Linked DNA regions of Homo sapiens. The protein of the gene in region 1 interacts with the protein of each later gene in a pairwise test. Each region holds a gene or a part of one and is shown on either strand. Other genes may lie near its edges.

Region 1 (3,500 bases):
CCATACCCACTTTTGTTTAAAAAAAAAAAATTAAGTACAAGGGGGTTGGTCTTCAGCATCTGTCTTCTTTCTCCCCATCCTCTTCAACCTCACTTTTCTCCAACATTAGCATATGGGTAATAAAACATTATCCTTGTTAGTCACTCAGAATATAGAATGTAATTCTGAACGTGATCATCACTATTTCTATGGCTGAACAGAAATTAAACCATGCTGCCAAACTTAAGACCAACAAACAGACACATATACAAATATTTACCTCTTTTAAGCTTTCTTTGCAAAGAGGACAATATGGTGCATGATCTAAACAACGCTCAAGACAATTCTTACAGAACGAATGTCCGCAAGGGGTTGTTACTGGCTCAAAAAACAACCTGAAATCAACCAAGATACATGTTAGTTTTCACATTAAACTATCCACTGAAAAGCTTGTACTACTTTAGAACCATAACACTAATCTCTATTTAAAGGAGGAAGAAGGAGGGCCCAGCAGGCAGGAGAGGAGAGAAAGGGCAGTGATAAGTGTAACCATACCCTCCAGAATGTTTTAAAATTCTCCATCAACAAAGGCCTCCTGCCAAAGGCCTAGAGCCAAGGGCCTAGAGCTGTCCTGACTAACGCAACAGCCCCTGGACACTATGGCTACTAATCACTTGAAATGTGGCTAGTACAAGCTGATATGTGCACTGAATGTAAAATACATACCAGATTTCAAAGACTTTCTGCAAAATAAATAATGTAAAATACATCATTAAAAATCATTAGTTAGCTTTTGTATAGCCTTTAGATTCCCATTTTAATATCAACTTAAAAATGATTCCTTAATAGGTTTATAAGACCCTTATGATATAAAACTCATAAAAAGAATGACCTAATAAATAATGCAGTTGAATCCTAATGTTAGACTTAATACTAAATGTATTATTCAAACATTACAGAACAACTAGTTTTACTTATTTTCTGAAACATGATAGTTTTGAATTTGCTAGAAATAGATTTAGAGGTACTTTAGGGACTGTTTAGTATAATCCCCTCACTTCACAGATGAAGAAACCAAGGCTCAGAATTAAGACTTGCTCAGGAATGTAACTGCTACCAGCCTAGTGTGACCAGCACTAGGCCTCCTGACCCCGTATGAATCTTTTGATCCTACACAATTCATGTAAATGAGAAATGTTATTTCAAAACATTTAGTCTTTTAGAATTATAGCATTCTGAATAATGGAAATCCTTATCCTTATGTTACTTTAAAAAGACTTTATGGTTAATATACATTAATAAGATAGGATCATATACATAAAATACTAATTAGAATTCATACCCAAATTTAAAACCATGGAGATAGGTAAGTTTCAAAAATAATATCATCTATAACTTTCTTAGTACTTTACAATTTCCCAGATTCCTTTTATACTGAAGCCATGTGATTCTCACAACAATGAGATGTAGGCCATGCAAAGCTTGATCCCACTTTCTAAATTAGGAAACCTGAGGTTCAGAGATTCAGTTATTTGCCCAAGGCATGAAAGGTAAACCCAGGACTAAAATTCATGTCTTTTGATTTTTATTCCAGCATTGTGTTACTTTACATTGTCTATTATTACCTTTATCTACACGGTATTTTATGTATACTAACATAAAATATTCATCTTCTATAAAGTTTTATATGCTTACCTCATGCAGAGAGAACACTCGAAATCTGAGACATCGATTAATTCTTCTGGAATATCACCATAAGCTAAGGAAAACATACAGACTTCATTGGGAGTTTCTATTAAAACAAAGACATGGGGTTTTCTTCCTTAGGAAAAACTTTAAAGACTATTCTGACTAAATAAATTTATTTTATATAAGTGTAGAGCAAAATTTTTACCTCCTTGTTTTTTCAGCTTATTTCTTCCATCTTCATTTACAATCACATCCTGTTCTAAAAGAGACAACTTTCTTTTCAGCAGAACACCTTTTTCTTGAACTGACAGAACAGGTTCTGAGGACACTCTTTTTAAACAGTCCTCTCTGGCAGGCATTTCTGTTGAATTTATAGACTGTGCTGACTGAGCACGGTTTAAGCTTCCTTTGACAGGCTCTGAAGTGACCTCTGGTATTTCTTCACTCTACAAAAATACAATAAACAAAGGTAACTGTATTTCTTTACTATCCTTTATTCCTCTCACCAAGAATCAAACTGAAATGAAATTTCAATGCCTTATAATGCTCATTTTAATGTTCATTTAATAGCACTAACTTGATTCCAACACTGTGACAAGTAAATGATTTTTGCCAGCACAGTTGGCCCTCCGTATCCACAGGCTCTGCATCCGTGGGTTCATCCAACTGGGGATAGAAAATATTCTAAAAAAAAGCCTGAACATATATCGACTTTTTTCTTGTCATTATTCCCTAGACAATACAGTATAACAACTATTTACATAGTATTTACATTGTATTAGGTATTATAAGTAACCTAGAGATGATTTAAGTATACAGGAGGATGTGCATAAGTTATATGCAAATACTGTGCCATTTTATTAATATATCAGGGACTTGAGCATCCTTGGATTTGCTATCTGTGAGAGGTCCTGGAACCAATCTCCCACAGATACAAGGGATGACTGTACTTACACAGCCCTAGAAATCAAGGTGACTTATGTTATAATGAGGTTTAAAAGTAGTTATGCTATAACACAGCTGTTACTACCCTGAGGAAACATAAATGCAATGTTCTATACATATTTTTAAAGAACTAAAAGTTTTCTTTCACGGGACCTAAAATTGTGATTCATTAGCAAATATTTTACATAAAAGATTTTAGTGTAAAGTAAAGGCTATGGAAAAAATTCTACTATGATAACTAACCAGGTTAAAAGTACTTAAGTAGGTGCTAGTACTTGAAACTAGGAAAGTGAAGCTCTTAACTCGTAAAGAAATGGATACGCTAAACTCATGATAACCTTGTCTCACCCCGTACCTGCTTTGGGCTAGGTTCATTGAGAGACTGAGACTCTTCCATCACTGAATGAAAATCAAAAGGTCTGTTTTTAGTACATGGTAATGAACTCCAGGAAGATTCCTTCAGGCCTTCTTTTAAGTTTTCAGGTAATAATAAATCACATAAAATCTGTAAGAGAAATATTAAAAGTAGTAGAAAATATAAAATATTTGGTTAAGGATAATTTTGTATAAATTTACCTAATAAAGAATATGTAGAAAGTTTGTAGCAGACATTTTTTTAATGAGCAGGAGGGGAACAAGGTAAGCAACACTGTAAGTTCAAAAGTCTTGCAAAATTAGGTGTGCCTCATGGGGTCAAATCACCCGCAAACAAATGATTCAAAACTTTGAAAGGAAAGCATGGGAGTAGTAAGACTCAGGATAAAGGCTGATCTTTCAACACAAAGACTATAAAAAGATCTTAAAAGACATATTAAATATTTATCTCTGAATCTTAGTGAGCCCTATGCTATCAAAATAGTTCATGGTTCACCTCAATGTATATTTAC
Region 2 (3,500 bases), on another chromosome or scaffold:
CTCTGGGCTAAGCCCTGGGGTTACAGGCAGCAAAGACACACCTATGAATTAGCATTGATCTGCAAACCACAGAGGGTACCATGGAATTGTCATGATTCAGTAGCCCCTCACCTCCTTCAACCCTTGACTGACTATACCGTCTACAATGTGCTGAGAATACAGTGGGGAACAATACCAAAAGGGTACTTTCATTCAGGAAACTTCCAGTCTAACAAGTCAAACTCCCCATCGCTTGGAAGGGAGAGTAAAAAAATATATATATATTCAGAAGAAAAAAGCACATGCATGCATTAGGCAGGGTGCAAGGCTGGGAGAAAAGGAGGAGTTGAGGAGCGCAGCTGGAATCTGGGATCTGCCTCGAGGAAGTGCGCGAATAGTGGTCCCCTCTCCTCCCAGAACAGTGGAGAGGCGCCAAGACCATCCCTACCTGGTGCCATCAAAGAGAGAGGACTGTTACGACCTCCTGCGAGTCCTGACAGGGAAAGGCCCTCTTTTGGGGTCAACTGTGGGGACGGCGCAATGCCAACCTGAGCCACCATTTGAAATGAGAAAAAGCGGCGTGGCAGAAAGAAATGAGTCTGGTACAGACCAGTGGTTGGTTTCCTAGGGTTAGAGGTCTAGGTCTACCTTCTGTTAGAAGAGGGGCAGTGGTGAGGCCTTGATGGGAGCCCCCTGCCCCAGAATTCACTTAAGAGCAGGTGTACCTTCCTCCCCTGCGTGGCTCCATGAAGCTGGGAAAGAAACGCACAAGAGGACCACCCTAGAGGCCCAGGCTTGTTTGGCCTGAAATCGCCTCACCCCTCCCAGACTGCACTGCTGACACCCCCTCTCCCATTAGCTTCCAGGAAGGAGAGTGAGAGGGCTGGGGAGAGGGAAGGGGCAGACACCCAGCAGTCCCTGGTTGGGGAGTTGGGGCGGGGGTGCAGACACACCAAGGGGCGGTTTGGTATCCATCCGCTGCTCCCTCCAGCGCGGCTCTTCCCAACCTCCTGATCCTGTCCCCTGCCTGGGTCCCCAGCCGCCCGCCCGTCCCTATATTATAGCAACGCCAGAAATGTGGTGGTGGTGGTCGCCACGTTAGGGTCCGCGGGGGTCCTCCTGAGGCAGCCTGGTGCCAACCCGCAGGCCCAGGCTGGGGCTCGTCATGGCCCCGCCCACCTCTGGGTCGGAACTAAGGTGGGCCTGAGAGGGGGGCGTCGAGCACTTTCGCGCCGTATCCCTCCGCCCCCCTTCCCGACACCCTCGCGGAGAGAGCGGTTCTTGCAGCATCCTGCGCAGCCCCTGCCCAGTTTGGTGCAGAGGCGTGGGGGGCGGGACGCGTCTTTGCCATTCTGATAGCGGGGAAAGCGGTGAGAATCGAAGTGAGGAGCCGCCAGAGGAGAGCTGAGGAGAGGAGGGGGAGGTCGACGACCTGGGCCCTGGGCCTCTGAAGGCAAGTGGGGGTGCGTGAGCTTGGGGTGGTCCGCCAGGGTGGACCGGCTGGCAGCCTGCCCCGCCGACCCTGACATCCTGGCAAGGAGGAGACGATCCGGTCGGAGCCGGTCGCCGGAGAGAGGTGCGCAGTGCTCGAGACCCCTGGCGATGGGGAGGCGGTGACCGGTGCAGGCCGAGCCAGGCCAAGGGCTGAGGGGCTGGCTTGAGAGGCACCGTCAGATCGTCTGGAGGAGAACCGCGCTGACCGCCTCCAAGCCAGCTTTGCAGGCGCCGGCGCCCCGCCCTCGACGGTGTCTGTGCCCGGAAAGGGCTGTGGGGGAGCTCCTGCGGGAGAAATGGCGGAGCGGGAGCCATTGTGGGGGGCTCCCGGGAAGGCCGGGGGGAGCCGGCGTCCCAGCTCTGTGCCCAGCCCACGAGAGGTGGGCCGCGTTCGCTACTCGGGGCCCTGATTCCGGAAAGGGGCCTGTGGGACCCCGTGTCTTGGGTGCTGTCCCTTCCCACAGGCTCCAGGTGGTTGTTAAAGTCTCCTGTCTGCGTGATAGGTCTGTTGGGTTCTCCAAAAGTGGAACTTTGAGTGGGTGAATTATGAAGACACTAAAATGAAATGTTTAACCGCCTTTTATAATACCGCACTGTTTTATTGCCTTACATATTTAGATCCCCACATCCAGTTTTGTGCAAGCAAATAGGGTGTGGACTTAGTCGAATTTCACAACAGTGGTCCATGTAAATAACAGGGTAGTATTTTTCCACCTTTCTTGTTCAGGATCTGTTTTCTCAACATGCTGATCCACTTTAAGTAATGTAATGATGTGTGAGAATGTGGGTTCCGAGTAGAGGGGTAATCTTTTTGAAGGGTCAATTTAGAACATTTGAAGTCAATCTGCTTCTTCAGTTTATGGTTCTGGAAACCAAAACTCCATCTCCAGCCACTCCTCACAGACCCTCTCATTTTGGTGCAGAAATAGTCCCACAGAAGAATTCATGGCATTTCTGATGGTGGATATCTGAGGAGCTATGAGAGTTGGGAGACTTTATTTACTTAGTTTCTGATTCTCAAAAAGGAGGTGTTAGAATCCGAATTCTGGGAATCTGTCCATTAACCTGCTATTTTTCTACCATTGTTAACATAGTCTCTTGGGGTTATTTTTTGCTAGTTGCTCCGCCTTCTTTTTGTAGGGCGTGACTCTTCTTTGGTGGGAAGGATAGCATCTCCTGAGAACTCCTGCTGTATAAGCAGGCTGACATAGGTGGTGAATAAAGTAGGATCTAGGTATGCATGGGGAAGGGGAAGGACATGCACAGATGGTATTAAAATAACAGTCTCCATTATGTTCCCTGCCTGCCTTGTAAGTACAATTGCCTATGTTCCACTACCTATTTCTGCACCTCATTTTTTTTGGTTCAGGAAAGGAGCTGTAACTTCTATTGGGAAAATGACTGACTTCAAAGTTGGCAGGAGGTGTAATCAGGCTGCAGGTCTTGGGGTGATTAGGGAATCATTGAGGAAGAGCAGACAGGTGGGAGACATTTAACATAGCCTTGAATATTCAAAAGCATATGTTATAATCCTTGTTATAGGCATTAGATCATCTTAGTCTCTTCTGTTTTCTTTCCTCTGCCTTCCTTTCTATCCTTAGGTCTGTTTCTTTCTAGGTTCCTGTAGAGATCTGTATGTAGCTGTTCACTTGGAAGTTAATTAAGAAAGAACAAAAACTATTCATTTGGATTCAAGGTAGGTTTATGTGTGAGCACCCCCGTTGATTGGGGTTATGGAAAGGCTGTTGCCAAGTGGGTTAGACCAGATCATATCTTGGTGCCACTGTCTTCCATCTTTCTAGTCACCTCTGACCTCACATTTGTGTACAAGTGATGGGGTGGGGTGAGCCAGGATTATGCCTATGAGGTAATTGGTAGATATTGGGGCAGGAAATGGGAAGATAAGCCACAAGGAGTACTAGGAGGCCAGAAGTGTTATATAACCAAAGCCCTAGATTTGGAAAGGCAGAAATTGGGTTTAGAGATTAGAGTGTAGGTCTGTCAACCAAATACTCAGAACTCCAATC

Evidence for each region.
Region 2: the proteins of LONRF1 (region 1) and GPRASP3 interact in binary tests that used the Homo sapiens proteins (3 or more experiments, as listed by UniProt).

Annotation. Positions count from the first base shown.
Region 1 is NC_000008.11:12,735,027-12,738,526, forward strand, and holds part of LONRF1 (LON peptidase N-terminal domain and RING finger protein 1), read right to left. Parts: intron 3,119-3,500; coding exon 2,969-3,118; intron 2,335-2,968; coding exon of another isoform or gene 2,246-2,334; intron 2,115-2,245; coding exon 1,874-2,114; intron 1,772-1,873; coding exon 1,675-1,771; intron 375-1,674; coding exon 260-374; intron 1-259.
Region 2 is NC_000023.11:102,744,743-102,748,242, forward strand, and holds part of GPRASP3 (G protein-coupled receptor associated sorting protein 3), read left to right. Parts: intron 1-1,236; exon of another isoform or gene 1,237-1,432; intron 1,433-3,074; 5' UTR 3,075-3,169; intron 3,170-3,500. UniProt on the Homo sapiens protein: Survival and differentiation promoting protein that plays a role in the regulation of neurosynaptogenesis. Induces phosphatase PP2A activity which results in APP dephosphorylation and inhibits BACE1-mediated processing of APP.